Linked DNA regions of Homo sapiens: region 2 is linked to region 1. Evidence: fine-mapped expression QTL. A gene starts in region 1. The other region holds a variant in brackets. All regions are shown on one strand. Distances are between the middles of the regions.

Region 1 (5,372 bases):
TCACCCTCTGATGAACCAAGGCACTGCACTGAAGTTTTATATTTACATACTTAATCTCCCTCATGTAACTTATAAGCAACTTCTGATCTTATCACTTCTTTATGTCCTGGTACTTAACACAGTGTACAGTATCTATCACTCACTAGGTACTCAATAATTAGTTTTTGACTGAAACTAAATTTTCTGAATTATCAAAAATTAATTCTAGTCAAGATCAGAACTCCTAGTGAGGCCAAATAAAAGAACGTGTCAGGTCTTTCAAATGCCATATTCTTCAAGTTAATTCTTTCCATTAGAACAAGTTACTTCCTACTTTCTCAACATCTGGGTTCCAGATTTAGGAATCCACTCTATCCAAGATAACTTGTATGACAATGAAGATAAGTCCTGGCCACCAAATGAAAAAGTAGCACGCTGTTGCCATGCCTAGCTCTGTGGACAGTTTTTCAGCCTAAGTCATACTGACTCTTGACTGCTCTAGCAGCCAGAGCACAAGATATTGAAGAAACCGAGTTCCTGATCACGAACCTCACCTAGCTCTTCTGCTTTGACATTAGCTGTCCCTGAAAACAAAATCACAAAACTTCACCCACAGAATCAAAATCTGACTTATGTTTAAAATGACACTGTTTTCTAACATGCCAGGCTATTCATATTTCTTCCAATATATGACCAAGTTCATTTTCAACACTTTCAAAACACTATGCCAGGATGCTTAGCCTTAAGGCTACCAAACTAGTCCCAAAAAGATGTAGTATCTGGAAACAATTTAAAGTAATTTGCTACCTCCAGGCATTTTAAAGATCAAAATGAAGAAAAATGAAGTTTTAAACTGAATGAGAGGGAGAGGGGGAACCTAAAGATTTGAACATCGATTTGATAGTCAAAACACCAACAGAAAAAGAAGAGCAGAAAAACAAGCGAAGAGGCTATGATTTTGATATTATGTGCTAGTTTTTAAAAAACATCTAAAGATAGGCCAGACACGGTGGCTCACGCCTGTAATCCAACACTTTGGAAGGCCGAGGCGTGCGGATCACTTGAGGTCAGGAGTTCGAGACCAGTTTGGCCAATATGGTGAACCTCATCTCTACTAAAAATGCAAAAATTAGCCAGGCATGGTGGCGGGCGCCTGTAATCCCAGCTACTCAGGAGGCTGAGGCAGGAGAATTGCTTGAACCCGGGAGGCAGAGGTTGCAGTGAGCTGAGATTGCACCACTGAACTCCAACCTGGGAGACAACGAGACTGTCTCAAAAAAACAAAAAAACTCAAGATTAAAGTAACACAATTGCTGGGGTAAAAAATAACTTACAGAGCCAAAAACGTAACTGTTACAAAGGAAATCTTAATATTTAAATATTTAAAGTTGGTCCTTGCTAATGACGTTTTAAAAAATCAACTAAGATGAAAGTATACAAAATAAGGAATAAACAGTAATTAATACATATTAACAATACCTTTTTAACAGATAAGAGATTATGGAAACTCTCAAATACAAAATAGTGTAAACTGCACTAAAGAGATATTTACATGTTTTTTTCTGAAATAAACTAGTATGATTAAGGGATTGTGATGGCAATTTAACTCCCTTGAAAAAAAAAGAAGATTTCATTATAGGGTATGAAATATGGGGCTCCTGGAAAATTGACGGAAACCAGGACACTGGGAGAAAGGCCCTGGGAGGGACCCCTGAGCATGGTCCCCCTGAGATTTGACCAGTTCCAAAGATAGGCAAGGATCTAGAATGAGAAGAAAGAAGAAAATGTATTTCCCAAACAGCCTCACTGTCAAAGGACTGGGATTCAGCCACTGTACCTTGCAATCCTGATCTCCCATGGGGGAACGACATACTTTTTCCTCTCTAATCATCACTTGTCTCACCCCCACTCTCAACACACACATCCCTCTTAGCACATTAATCAGTGAGACTCCTAAAGGTACAACTTCTGAGATATAAGAAATAGGATCCAAGAAATCAACCCGACATTTTACAGGCAACTGAGCCTTGAGTTCACACATGCTTCCGGGACTTGTGAGCCAGCTCAGCCCTGCGGAGACACCCCCATCTCTTTGAAAGCAAATGCCTTTAGGAGGCGGGGACAGGCGTTAGAAGAGGTGGTGGCAAGGTCCCTGATTTGGGGACTAAGGCTAGGACACTAACCACCATCTTGCCATAAACACTTCCAGATTGGGAATGGGGGGCGGCGGGGGGGTGGGTAAGAGAAGGGACTGGGAAACTGGCAAATTCTCAGACTGGGACTTCAGGATGTGGAAATCGGGAGCCACTGCTGAGGTGGCCAACTGAAGGTGAAGAAGCCCAAGCGTCTGAAGTGCGGGCAGGGCCTGAGGCGTCTCGAGCTTATCCAGCAAGCAAAGCCCGGGCAGCCTAAGCGCGCGCCACCCACACCCAGGTCAATCGTCCTCCCCACCCCCCGCCCTCATCCCAGCCCTCGCGCAGTGCTCCCCCCTTCCCCGACCGCCCCCCAGGCCTCCGTCATTCCCCCTCCCCGCCCGGCCCCGCCTTCGCCTTACACTGAATGGGCGGGTAGCAACTGGGGTCCTCGCCGCCGGGCTGGCAGCGGCTGGAGAAGGCGCTGCGCGGGGTCACGTAGTTGCTGGGGAAGATGCCCACCCGCTGGTTCAGCTGCCCGGTCCACCAGCCCTCGTCGCCGGACACCTGCGAGTCCTTGGACAGCACCTCCACCACGTCGCCCAGCCGCAGGGTCAGCTCGTCCTCGCCCGCCGCCTCGTACTCGAACACGGCCGTCCAGTAGGGCAGCGGCGCGTCGCAGCCCAGCTCCCCGGGGCCCACCGCCGCCGCCGCCTCCTCCTCCTCCTCCTCCTCCTCCTCGGCCCCGGCCCCTGCTCCATCCTCCCCCGGCGGGGCGGCAGCGGCGGCGCTCGCTAGGCAGCCGAGAAGCGCTCTGGAGGGCTCCATGGAGCGGCCGATCCATAGGGTGCGGGGCCGCCGCCGCCCGCAGGAGCCGCCGCCGCCTATTGTTCATGCGCCTCCGCAGAGCTGGGAGGACCCCCCCCCAACGACGGCGGCCGCAGGTAGGGCCCGGGCTGGCAGGGCTGGGAGAGCCGGCTCGCCGGCGCTGTTACCGCGGTACGAGAAGAGCGCCGAGCGCGAGCTCTTCGCGCAGCCTAGGGGCGCAGCGGGCCGAGTCCCCGCCTGCCCGCTCGCCCCCCCGGGGGCGGCCTCGTCACCTCTGCCGCCGGTACCTGCTCGCGCAGCCGGTGCCCGCCGCTGCCAGCCGGCCGCCGCTCTCCTCTCCGCGCCGTGCCGTGCCCCGCCCCCCGCACCGCCAGCTCGCCGGGACCACCTGACGCGGGCCTGGCTCCGCCCCAGCCCTGCGGACCCCAGGGGGCTCCGCCCCACGCCCGCCCCGCCCCGCGCCCGCTGCCTTCCCATTGGCTGCGGCCGCCCAGTCCCCGGTTCCTCCGCCGTGGTTGGGGCAGCCTAGCTGGCCGTCTCGCAGGTCCCTCTCACCCCCTGCGCCGCCGTCGCACCGTGCCCTCCCCCATTGCGGGCTCTGTCATTCTCAAACCCAGGTCGACCCACTCTTCCCGCCCACTGGCCCGCCGCAGCTCCCTCCATTGGCTCGCGGCACCTGTCCGTTTCCTGGGAGAGTTCAGCACCTCCCGGCAGGAAGAGGCTCCGGCCTCATTGGGTGCGTGAGAAGGGAAGGGTGGATCCTAAAAGGTAATACTGAGCCTTCATTCAAACTAAAAGGCTGGAAGGGAGGCAGCTGCCTTTGTTTGCCATGGATGGGTAGGGGCTGCACTGAGCAGCACCGGTGTTCTTCATCCGGCTGCACCCCCAACAGAGCTCTTTCTTCCCCAGATCCCTTTTACAGTTGGATTCTCCCTCTTGGATCTGGCTCTGCCTTAGTCCGACCTAGAGGGATCAGCTTCGCCCACGCCCACTCTCACCCGGAACCTTTCATCTCTTATTGAAGCCTTTTAGGCCCATTGGGATGTTCATTAGAACTCTGAAAACTACAGTTCTCCCCTTTATGAGGACTGCACCACAGCTCGCCCTCTCCTGGGTTCCGGTAAGAAGAGATTCCAATACCACTCTTTTTTCAGAATTCAGAAAGGCAAGAGACCACCTTACTGAGCTTCAAACTGGGGCTGGGAACGCTGCCATGAATTGGGCTTGGTCTGTCTGAAGGGAGCCACCTTTTCGACAATCCTTAGACTTCTTTTGCCTGTTGGAATTACACCTTGGATCGTGGCGAAGTCTATAGAGGTCAGATTAAGAAGAACCAAAGCAGAATAAACGTAGAACCCGATGCTGAGTTCACGAGTGAGGACGACCTCTTCCTATATGCTTTGCTATACCCTGCGTTTTGAACATTAAGGACGAGATAGGAGGCCCATAATGTTTCTTCTTGCTTTAATCCTGTCGTGGCAACGTTGACTTCCAGTAAGAAAGGTTCTCTGATCTTTTTTTCTCTTTTCTTTTCTTTTCTTTTCTTTTCCTTTCTTTTCTTTTCTTTTCTTCCAGGGTCTCAGTTTGTTGTCCAGGCCAGAGTGCAGTGGCGCAATCTCGGCTCACTGCAGCCTCAACATCCTAGGCTCAAGCCATCCTCCCACCTCACCCTCCCGAGTAGCTGGAAGTACAGGCTCGTCTTGAACTCTGGGCTGAAGTCATCCACCTGCCTCGGCCTCCCAAAGTGCTAGGATTACAGGCCTTAGCCACCTCACCTAGTCCTCTGAAATTTCTAAATAAGCCAGTGCTGAAGGATCTAGCCCAACTTCTACCAAACTTTGTTACCTTTTCCCCTTCAGTGGTAGGAATAGACATGATTTATTTAGCAAGGGTGAGTGCTTTTGTTGAATTTTAGTTTGGGGTTTATTATTACACAAACTAAAGACAGCGGGGCAATTTGGAAAGATAACTAGGCAGCTGCATGACTTCAGGCAGGTGTCCTAACACTGTACTCTTAAAGTGAGGGGAGTGAACTGGAAGATATCCTGTGTCCTCATAGTTTGAACATTCTGTGGTTCGCTCATCAATATGACTACACTGTATAGTCATAGCACACATTTGAGGTCTTGAAGAAGAGAGATGAGGCTTGTTCTAAAAAGCATCCAGAGTAGGTCTTGAAAAAGGATTTCTGTTTAAGTAAAGACCTAAAACAATGCTCAGATTCCTATTATACATAGGATCCATGAACTGGAAAAGATATGGATGAGTCTGAGTAAATTATCTAGGTTTTGTTTTAGACAAAACCATTCCACTGTCAAGCAGCAGAGAGCAAGGGAGTGGGGATGGAGGTATATTGTGTTTTTTTAAAGGCCATAAGAAAATAATTGTCTTGATAAAATTTTAACTTAGGACTGGGTATGGTGGCTCGTGCCT
Region 2 (5,372 bases), 34 kb after region 1:
GGGTGGGGGACTTGCTGTTGGCAGAAGAGTCCAGGAACAAAAAGAGAGAGAACCCACTCCCAAAAGCCCTTTTAGAAAGGCATTAAGCCCACCCATGGCCTAATTACCTCTTAAAGGCTCCACCTCCCAATATCATTACATTGGCAATTGAATTTCCACATGAGTTTTGGAGAGGACAAACATTCAAACCATAGCAGGCAGGCAGACTAAGTTCTTTCCTTCTCTAAAGATGGCAACCAGTTATTTTATAGCTGTGAAGACAGAGGAGCAGAGAAGCTCTCTGTCACCAACAGCTTGCAAGTAGGACACACTCTGCACCTCTCACCTGTCACAACTTTGCCTGGCCCAGGGAGCTCCAATAGCTTTATCAGAACTTCAGATTTTTGTAAGAGAAGTGACCAGATGTAGATGAAATTGTCCTTGACTTTCCCAATAAGTGCCCCAGCTCTTTTTACATATAAGGTGTAACTTGGCTATGTAACCTAGCTAGCAATCTCTTCAAGCTCCTATGGCTTTTTAAAAGATGAGCCAGTGAGGCTGGGCGCAGTGGCTCGAGTTTGTAATCTCAGCACTTTGGGAGGCTGAAGTGGGTGGATCACCTTAGATCAAGAGTTCAAGACCAGTCTGGCCAACATGGCAAAACCCTGTCTCTACTAAAAATACAAAAATTAGCCAGGCATGGTGGCGTGCGCCTATAGTCCCAGCTACTCGGGAGGCTGAGACAGAGAATTGCTTGAACCCGGGAGGCGGAGGTTGCAGTGAGCCGAGATCGTGCCACTGCACTCCAGCCTGGGTGACACAGCTAGACTCTCTCTAAACAAACAAACAAACAAACAAAAAACCAAAAAGATGAGCCGGTGAGCGTAAGCAAAGCCCATTAACACTGAAAGTACAGGAGAAGCATACCCACTCCACATTAATAATGCCAAAGTCTTGTCTTAAACTGTTAAAGTCTAGTAGTGTGTATATTACAAGATAGGAGTGACACTGCTCCATCCTCTGGACCCAATGGTAGAAGCCTGATATTGTGATTTATCCAAATCACACCAGTTATAGCAATGGATAGAGGAATGATCTGGGAATTTAGAGTCCTGTCCACCAACCGCATCCACAACTGCGTAAGTCATTTTATTTGTTGAACTTCAGTTTCGTCATTGGGAGAAACAAGATTGTACCAGAAGATTTTTATCAAACTTAACTGTATACTGCCAAAACACAGTACCACAAACTGGTGGCTTAAACAACAGAAATGTGCTTCACAGTTCTGGAGGCTGAAAGTCTGAAATCAAAGTGTTGGTGGGGTTGGTCCCTTCTGAGGACTGTGAGGGAGAATCTGTTCCTCGTCTCTCTCCTTGCTTCTGTAGCCTCAGGTATTCCTTGGTTTGTAGATGACTGTCTTTTCCCTATGTTTTCACATTGTACTCTCTCCATGCATGTCTGTCTCTGTCTAAATTTCCTCTTTTTTTTTTTTTTTTTGAGACGGAGTCTCGCTCTGTCCCCCAGGCTGGAGTGCAGTGGCGCAATCTTGGCTCACTGCAACCTCCGCCTCCCGGGTTCAAGCAATTCTCCTGCCTCAGCCTCCTGAGTAGCCCACCACCACACCCGGCTAATTTTTTTGTATTTTTTTTAGTAGAGATGGGGTTTTACCATGTTAACCAGGATGGTCTCGATCTCCTGACCTCGTGATCCGCCCACCTCGGCCTCCCAACGTGTTGGGATTACAGGCGTGAGCCACCGCACCCGGCCAAATTTCCTCTTTTTAAAAGGACATCAGTCACACTGAGTTACAGCCTGCCCTAGTGACCTCATCTTAACTTGATCATCTGAAAAGACCCCATTTTCAAATAAAGCCACCTTCATAGGTACTGGGGGTTGGTATGTCAACATCTTTTGGTAGGGACAGCTTTCAATCCATACACTAACTTTCTTAAAAAAAAAAAAAAAAAGAAAGAAGAATATATGTGAACCTAAAAGTAAACAGGAACATCTACCAAGAGGAGCGGGAATGAGTGTTGGTAGGTGGGTAGGAGACCACAGTTGCCCACCTAGCCTGATCTCTGCCTAACTGCAGGTGTTCTACAGGCTCCTTCCATAGAGATGACAGGATGCATGGAAGGAAGAGCACCCTGGAAGGAAAACACACAGTTCCAGAGGCCTCTTCAAACAGTACCAGTAATGCATACATAGAAGTGCAAAGGTGTGTACAGATTTATTTGTTCCCTATAGATACAGAGCCAGCAGTACTTAAGCACATAAATCCAGCTTTTCATCAATGAGAAGCCAAATGAGTCTCTCATTCATTTATTACTGGATCCACCTGTCTATATAAAGCCCATCTTCATTTTGCCTGCTTGGTAAAAAAGGAAA[C/A]TCTCATTGGCTCACCTAGCTCTTAGACTATAAGAAATAAAGTCTGAATCTTTCATGAGCTGCATGTCTAGGCCAGAACCCAGAAAATGGACTGTGTCCTGACCAAAGGTCAGTTATTTTCTGCCTTTGCCTTTCACTAGCATTTTACCTTGGCCTTTTTTTGCTCCCATCCTATGTGAATTTCCCATGCCTCTCCTCAGACACACACTCTCTGTAGAGAGATGCAAAATCTTTATGGAGTAACAACCTTTGTAACAATGAAAAAATTCCTCCCCTGATGACTTGGGACAGATTGGAGCCAAACCATTTCCTTCAGTCCCTGAGCACATTGTTTCCCTCCAGTGACTTCTGCAATCCAGAAACAGCTGCAAATTCCAGTAAAACAATGTTCTGATCCAATCCCTCAAGCCATCTTTACCCTTTTGTTTTTCTCTCTGGAGGGAGGAAAGAAAAAATATTTGAAAACCTGCCATGGTGCGTTATTTCCAAGCGTCTGTTGATGGAGGTGTGAGCCAAGAAGCCCTTTTTATTGGAGGAAAGAAGGAGAGAGTAAAAATGGAAGCAAGGGAGATATGAAAAAATGATGGAAAAGGGCATGGAGAAACATCTCAGAGAGTGGAATAAAGTTATGCAATGGAAAAAAAATGAGCAAAAACATTGCCTATACAATGCAACTGAAATGTGCTCAATTCAGGTTTTAGCTCACCTCTGGCTAAAGGTAAGTGAGCTTACCCTGGCTCACTTTGGGTAAGCCAGGAAGCCAGTCTATCTCAACATTTAATTTGGGCAATTTTTACATGAAACTAACCCATAAGAGAACATCAGGATATATTAAAATGATGCTGTGGCCAGGCATAGTGGCACATACCTGTAGTCCTAGCTACTTGGAAGACTGAGGTGGGAGGATTCCTTGGGCCCAGGAGTTTAAGGCTGCAGTTAACCGTAATTACACCTGTGAACAGACACTGTACTCTACTCTGAGCAACAGAGCGAGGCTCCATCTATTAAAAAATAAAATAAAGGATACAGTGAATTGAAAATGCATGAAGGTATGTTTCACAAAATGATTTACAGGAATACTCTTGTAATTTGCAACCTTCACAATACACTTAAATGGTGTATCAATTTATAAAGCTACCTTTTAATTTATCTTACAAATTAAAGTTTATAAAATTGCCCTTTCAGATTCATTTCTACCTCTTCTCATTTCTTGCTGTAACTACGGGACTGGTCTTTTCAGATGGAATCAATGCTCGCCCTCTAGCTTCTGGTTGGGGTTAGCTAACAGGAAGAATCACCAGGAGATTGAAGAGCGGAGAAGTTGAGATTGGGGTATTTATTACTATGGCTCCCTCCCTGATGGGTCACCATGGGTTGGTTGCTTCCCTTTACTGAAGATCACAGCTCCTGAAAGAGGGGTGTGTCCCTCCCTCTTCATGCAGCTATGCTCTGTTCCTTCCCCTTTCCCCTGCATGTTTTGGAGGCATGGGTAACCAAACCCTACTGTTGCTAGAACCCAGGGTACTGCATTTTTCTCTTCCAATTCCCTAAACCTCACCCACATCTTTGTGTGTGTGTGTGTGTGTGTGTGTGTGTGTGTGTGATGGAGTCTTGCTCTGTCGCCCAGGCTGGAGTACAGTGGTGTGATCTCGGCTCACTGCAACCTCCACCTCCCAGGTTCAAGTGATTCTCCTGCCTCAGTCTCCCGAGTGCTGGCACCAGCCACCACGCCTGGCTAATTTTTTGTATTTTTAGTAGAGAGGGGGTTTCACCATATTGGCCAGGCTGGTCTCAAACTCCTGACCTTGTGATCCACCCACCTCAGCCTCCCAAAGTGCTGGGATTATAGGCGTGAGCCACTGTGCCTGGCCCACCCACATCTTTATAAATAAATTAGTCCCTTAAACTCACCTTAATTATCTAGTTTGTGTGTGCTCTACGCCTGATTTTTTCCTTCACCTAGACTATAAGTCCCTTGAGTGCAGTCTTATAGGATGTTTCGTGTGTTCTCAAAACATCTAGCATGGTCCCAAAACTTCCAGCATGATACAGAGCAAAGCTTTGTCATTCACAGTGTTGATGATCTGAAGAAAGTTCCTTCATTTAGTCTGCCTTCTTTCCAAAGTCACACATGCAGACCTATTTAGTGAACTCTTCATGATTCCATCTATTCACACAAAGTCAGCCCATCATTTTTACCCAATACCTGTGTTTAATGGGATTTTGCTGCTATGGAAAGTAGTGTGATGTAATGGAAACAGCAGGGGGTTTGGAGCCTCACTGACCCAGGCTCAACTTCTAGGTCTGCTACCTTCTAGTTGGGTAACAAGGAAAAGCTGCTTAAAGTTCCCAAGAACCACTGACATTATATACGAATGTGAGATGAAGAATTATCACGTCTCTGCCTCCTTCTCCCTCTTGCTTCTTCTCATCTTTACCAGAGTGGCCAACTTGTGTCTTTTGTCCTTAATTTAAACACAATGGCCAGTGGTATAATGAAGCCAGGCTCCTGAGGAAGAGGGGATAGAAAAGAAAGGAAAGGAAAATATTAGAAGGTTTAGACATTGGCAGCATGGACCAGGCTTATGATAAATATTTAAATATGATTTTTGGAGACATGAAAGAAATTATGATACTTAAAGAAGCTGATGAGGAAACACATGAGGAAGTGTAAAAAAATGAGCAAGAGACCAGCACAGTGGCCTGTAATCCCAGCACTTTGAGAGGCTGAGGCAGGAGGATGGCTTGAGGCCAGGAGTTAGAGACTAGCCTGGGCAACATAGGGAGAACTTGTGCTACAAAAAAATGAAATATTAGCCAGACACGGTCGGGTGCACTTGTGGTTCCAGCTACTTGTGAAGCTGAGGAGGAGGATCACTTGAACCTAGGAGAGTGAGGCTGCAGTGAGCCATGATTACACCACTGCACTCCAGCATGGGTAACAGAGTGAGACTCTGTCTCTTAAAGAAGAAGTGAACAAGCTGGACTATTCCAATGCTGCTTGT

Direction of the effects. Positions count from the first base shown, and alleles are read on the strand shown. Sizes are in standard deviations (SD) of each study's normalised expression.
With allele C in place of A in region 2, the expression in prefrontal cortex of the gene that starts at base 2,552 in region 1 is higher (small effect, 0.38 SD a copy in BrainSeq).

What was found. PIP is the estimated chance that this variant, and not a neighbour inherited with it, causes the effect. A credible set is the group of variants that fine-mapping cannot tell apart.
Region 2: its variant is the best candidate, but not a certain one, in a credible set for the expression of MAP3K9-DT in prefrontal cortex (BrainSeq, PIP 0.56).

What each region holds. Positions count from the first base shown.
Region 1 is chr14:70,806,233-70,811,604 of GRCh38, forward strand. MAP3K9-DT (MAP3K9 divergent transcript) reads left to right here and starts at 2,552. Exons shown (of 2, transcript NR_184164.1): 1 at 2,552-3,055. It overlaps MAP3K9 (mitogen-activated protein kinase kinase kinase 9), which reads right to left and starts at 3,281. Exons shown (of 12, transcript NM_001284230.2): 1 at 2,534-3,281. The coding sequence starts at 2,939. RefSeq lists an enhancer at 1,843-1,902 and a silencer at 2,843-3,482.
Region 2 is chr14:70,840,579-70,845,950 of GRCh38, forward strand. No RefSeq gene overlaps it. Among named protein-coding and RNA genes, the nearest start is that of MAP3K9, 34 kb to the left of the region's middle. The variant C/A (reference allele first, on the strand shown) is at 2,368.